Linked DNA regions of Homo sapiens: region 1 is linked to region 2. Evidence: fine-mapped expression QTL. Tissue or cell type: whole blood. Region 2 holds a variant in brackets; the other region holds the start of a gene. All regions are shown on one strand. Distances are from middle to middle.

The links. PIP is the estimated chance that this variant, and not a neighbour inherited with it, causes the effect.
Region 1: UBE2Q2 starts here. The variant in region 2 is fine-mapped to the expression of UBE2Q2 in whole blood (INTERVAL, PIP 0.94).

Annotation. Positions count from the first base shown.
Region 1 is chr15:75,841,825-75,844,511 of GRCh38, forward strand. It overlaps UBE2Q2 (ubiquitin conjugating enzyme E2 Q2), which reads left to right and starts at 1,623. Exons shown (of 13, transcript NM_173469.4): 1 at 1,623-2,022. The coding sequence starts at 1,843. RefSeq lists silencers at 1,204-1,383, 1,424-1,563, 1,704-1,783, 2,034-2,433 and an enhancer at 1,705-2,602.
Region 2 is chr15:75,928,375-75,931,061 of GRCh38, forward strand. It overlaps FBXO22 (F-box protein 22), which reads left to right. Exons shown (of 7, transcript NM_147188.3): 6 at 1,510-1,675. Among named protein-coding and RNA genes, the nearest start is that of FBXO22, 26 kb to the left of the region's middle. The variant A/G (reference allele first, on the strand shown) is at 1,424.

The DNA of each region.
Region 1 (2,687 bases), 87 kb before region 2:
TAGGGCTGGTTTGAATGATAAGAGACTGAATTTGTAGGCTGTGGGGAGCTACTAACTTACTGAGGTAAATTGGAAAAGTTTATTTGTCTTCTTAAAGGCTAAGGACTATAACATGATACAAAATCTCAGAAGTAGATGGAAATAAAAACTTTCAGTAGACTTAATGTGTCCCTGTGTTGTTCTGTATTTTGTCATCTAAGGGGACCAGTAGCCCAGGGATCTCTTGTAGATTAGGAAGAAAGAGACAGGTGTCAGGGTTGGGTAACTCTAGGTAAGACTGGAAAAGGAAAATGCGGAGCCCCTTTCTGAAAAATTACGAATTTCAAAATGGCGACACCAGAATATTAAACCAAGCTCGAAGCCCTTCTAAGCTGGGAGCACTGTGCAACTACATAGGTTGGACGCATATGCAGCTGGTCCTGCCTCTTGCACTTACGATTGCACACACTATTGTCTGCCAAATTGGGATGTATTCCTTTGGACTGCTATCCAGACCTTTATTCATTTTTTGAGCACCTACAATGTGCCAGGAATTGTGCTAGTGGTGGGGATTCCAGATAAGAGCGAGCATTCAATTCAATCATATCGGGTTTCTACTATATAACAGGTCTTGTTCTAGGTCCTGGGGATACAGCTCTGAACACATTAACACGGGGCAGAGACAAGGAATAAATGGGTTAAAGATCAGATAGTGACAGGTGCCCAACAAAAACTTAGCACAGGACGATGTGACACAGGGTGACTATTTGAAATGGGTTGTGGTGGGGGGTGCCGGAGATGATATTTGAGCTATGAGTTTAGTGAAAATAGTGGGCAGCCCTAGCTCCATGGGGGTGTGGGTGGGGAGGGTTATCTTAAGCTTGGGAAACAAGGCAAAATAAGGAAAGGGGGGAGAGAGAGACTATATACGGCAGAGTGAACACAGGTGGTAGCTAAGGGAAGGGATGAAATCATGGGACACCTCCAGGCAACAGCCTCCAGGGGCTAAACCATCGTCTTGGGTAAATGGATGGTTTGAGAGCAAAGGCGGGAGCAGCGAGTCCGGTGAGAAGGTCCTCACAGGAACCCAGGCTGGTGAGAAGGTCCTCACAGGAACCCAGGCTAGCGAAGCGGTGGCTCGGACTAGGGTGAAAGTAGCGGAGGTAACGCTGGGTGAGCCGCACCCGCGTCTCCCACGAGGTCCCCCCAGTGAGGTTAGCGGGTGCCGCGCCGAGCGCCAAGCTGAGGAGCCGCCCCCAGGGGCTGGCGCTAGTCTGCAGCGGCGCCGACGTGGCCGGCGCGATCCGCCACGCACGTGTCCGGCTCCAGGCCGGGGGCGGGGGCGCGCGGGGGTCTCCGGCTCCTCCCCGACTTCTGGGGCCCGGGCGCCAGCTGGCCCCGAGCCTCCAGTCCGCGGGTGCGAAGAACGGAGCAGATGGGTCGGGAACAAGGGAGCTGGGTCAAGGCGAGGAGGGGGCGGCCGGGCGCGCGCGCTCTGGCCTCGTGCACGCGCTGAAACCGGAGCGCGCAGGGCGCGCCAGGGTGAGGGGGACGGGGGCGGGGTGGGGGCAGCCCTTTCCCAGGCGGTAGCGGGGGCGGCGTCGCTGTTGCCCTTTTAAGCCGCGGGGCCGCCGCCTCCTGCCGCTGGAGTCGGTTACAAAGGAAGCGCCACCCAGGCCGCCACACGCCGAGGCTTCCGCGCCCCTCGCCATTTTCCAGCAGCGCTCGACGAGGCGGAGCCGCGAGAGCGCGGCCCAGGCCGGCCCCGCGGGGCGGTCGCGGCCGTGACGGCGGCTCCGGGCCCGGCTCCCCTTCCGCGCCCGGCTCCCCTTCCGCGCCCCTCCCGCCGGAGATGAGGGGAAGATGTCCGTGTCAGGGCTCAAGGCCGAGCTGAAGTTCCTGGCGTCCATCTTCGACAAGAACCACGAGCGATTCCGCATCGTCAGTTGGAAGCTGGACGAGCTGCACTGCCAGTTCCTGGTGCCGCAGCAGGGCAGCCCGCACTCGCTGCCGCCGCCACTCACGCTCCACTGCAACATCACGGTGAGGCGCCCGGCCGCGGCCCCGCGGGGCAGGGCGAGGACGGAGAGGGGGCGCTTCGAGTCCCGGGACAAAGGGGAGCCTGCCCCGGAGAGGCTCCGGCTCCCCGGGCGGGGCAGGCCCGCCCCTTTCCCCCGCGACTTGCCCATCCCAGGCCGGGCTGGGACTGCGCGAGGCTTGGGTGGGAGGAGGCGGAGGGCGCGTCTTTCCGGCTTCTCGCCAGGGGCTGGCTTGGGGGCTTCTGGCCCATCTCGGTCCCCGTCTCCTAGCCCCGAGGGGGGAGTCCGCGGCGGCCCAAGCCCTTGTGGGGTCCATGGCCGCCCTCAGCCGGCCTGCTCCCGGGACCGGGGCGGGGCGGGGCGGGGCGGCGCAGCTCCGGCTGTTGTTTGAGCCCAGGCCGGCAAGGGGAACGGCCCTTAAGTTTTAACGCCTCATTTTTCAGTCGGATTTTCCTTCTTCCCGCTTGTTCAGCCAATTGTTTTTAAGTTTGCGTTTAAGGAGAAACTGACAATGAGAATGGACTCGTTGACGGAGGAAAAGTTGGAATGCAGACTCTGGTGCTGTTTGAGCGACCCCTCTCCCCCGGGCCTGGCTGCGCGCTGCTGTGTTCTGGAAAGGAGCATAGTACCGTCGTTGCGGCAGGTGGTGTTGAGTGTGTATTCGTGTGG
Region 2 (2,687 bases):
TAAAGAAAATGTAGTACATATGCAGCCATAAAAAAGAATGAGATCACGTCCTTTGCAGGGACATGGATGGAGCTGGAGGCCATTATCATTAGCAAACTAACACAGAAACAGAAAACCAAATACTGCATGTTCTCATTTATAAGTGGGAGCTAAATGATGAGAATACATCGACGCAAAGAGGGGCACAACAGACACTGGGGCCTACCAGAGGGTGGAGGGTGTGAGGAAGGAGAGGATCAGGAAAAATAACTAATGGAGAATGGGCTTATTACCTGGGTGATGAAATAATCTGCACAACAAACCCCCATGACACACGTTTGCCTGTGGAACAAACCTGAACATGTATCCCTGAACTTAAAAAAAAAATCAAATTGATAGTCTATAAACAAGCTGCCAGAGGCTCCAGTGAAACCTGGGAGCTGTGGGCAGAGCAAGTAGGCTGTCTCTGTTACACTCTGCCACCTCCTAGCGGTAGCAGCTTTTAGTTCCTGTGTCACAGAATTGAACATTTTCCTGCTTTGCAAGGAACTTTCAAAGGCTAATTCGCCTTTACTCTCACCTGCTTCCGTGGAGGAGGTGAATAAAGCCTGTATTTCAGTGATGTAGTAGTTTCTTAGGCTGCTGTAACAAAGTACCCCAAATTTGGTGACATAAAACGAGAAATTTATTCTGCACAGTTCAGGAGGCCAGAAGTCTGAAATTGAGATGGCAGTAGGGGTAGTGCTACCTTGGGAGGCTGTAGGGGAGAGTCTGTTCTTTTTCTCTTCCTACCGCTCCAGTTTCTGCTTCTGTGGTCACACTGCCTTTTCTTCTCTGTCTCTCCTTTGTACATCTTTCATTATGAGGACACTGTCATTGGATTTAGAGCCCACGTGGATAGACCAGATGATTTAATCTTAAGATCCTTACTAACATAGCGAGACCCCATCTCTACCAAAAAAAAAAAAATTTTTTTTAAAGATCCTTTTTCCAAATAAGCTTACATGCATAGGTTCCAGAGGTTTGATGTGGATATACCTTTGGCATGGGCAGGGGGCACTGTTCACCACACTATAAGTGGTTAGCGCCTTTTCTCTCCTTTAAAAAATAAAAAATCTGTAAATTCTCACTGCTGCTAGCACAGCTCTGTGTAAACCAGTGTTTTTTTTTTTTTGTTCCCTACTGAGAGCCAGCTTGCACCTTGGTCTACCAAGAGTTGCTGCTCAGTACATAGCTGCTTCATTATTTGTGTTGATTGCATTATTTATTAACACAAATAGCCATTTAGTTTTTTTAATAGAAAAAATAATTAAGATTTTGCATAATGTTTGTAAAAAATGGAAAACTTGATACAGAGATCGAAGAGGATATAAAATAAGATAAAAAATAAAAAATGGAAAATTTGATAGCTTAAGCCACTAAATTGCCCTTAAGGTGGAGTGCA[A/G]GTCAGTAACATTTCATTTTGCAGCATGTATAAAATAATTTCTGTTTTAAGGCTGTCTTTAACTGTTGCTCTTCATTTCTCTGCAGGTCTTTTAGATAACCCTGAACTTCGTGTGGTCCTTGTCTTTGGTTATAATTGCTGTAAGGTGGGAGCCAGTAATTATCTGCAGCAAGTAGTCAGCACTTTCAGTGATATGAATATCATCTTGGCTGGAGGCCAGGTGGACAACCTGTCATCACTGACTTCTGAAAAGTATGTCTTGTGTGCTTCTGATTTCGTCTGTGAATGAAGGGAAATGGTCTCAGGTTTTGTCACTTTGGGGTTAACAATTTAAAAAACGTGTTTAAAGAATTATTAAGATAATAGTTCATTCCATTTTGTAGTAGACATTGGCTAAGGGGCTTACTGAACATAATTCTGCTTACGGTTGAATAATTACATTTTTATATATATTGTCCTTCAAGAACTTCCTTGAGTCACATTCTCCTTAAAATTTGACATTGCCTGTTGATCTTTCCTTTGACAGATGTGGTACTCTGTGTGACCTCAATGTGTCACCTCCTTTCTAGTTTCCTCCTTTAAAGGAAACACATGGTTAGAGTGTATCTTTATGGCAAAACTTCTCAGAGCTTCTAATATGCCCAGTGCTGTGGAAATCTGGAAGGAGAATAGCATTACCTGTGACAGTTCCCAAATGTGTTTGGTCACAAAACTTTTTTCCACAGAATGTCTTGCAAGTCGTACTGGTTTTTGGAAATTCTGTATTAGATCTTTTGAAAGGCTTTTTCAAGCTTAAAAATTGTGGATCTTTTTTGTTACTAAGGCTTTTGCTTTCAAAGATAAAAATATTTGCTCTTCTGTCTTGGGAGCCATTACTTCCTTTCCATCTTGAATGAAAATACATATCATTTTGAGTTTGAAACAATTAGGTGGACATAAATATCATTTGTTTCCAGCAGGAAAATCAGACCCTACCCCACCCTCAATGCTTGTAAACACTACTATTTGTTTCCCACTCTGTTTAATATTTGCATCCTAGAGTGGTGACATGGGGACAGACTGTTGCAGATCAGTATCTATAAGAATAATGTAAGTCATCCTAGTTATAGTCTCTCTTCTGGTTATCTCTATGAGCTAGATCTGGGAAAATAGCTAAAGTTGAGGTCCCTGGACTGCCAGGGAGGAGGAAGAGAGGAAGGCCAAGTACGTTGAATCCCAGGCAGGATATCAAACACTGGATTTTGTGCATACATACACTGAATTC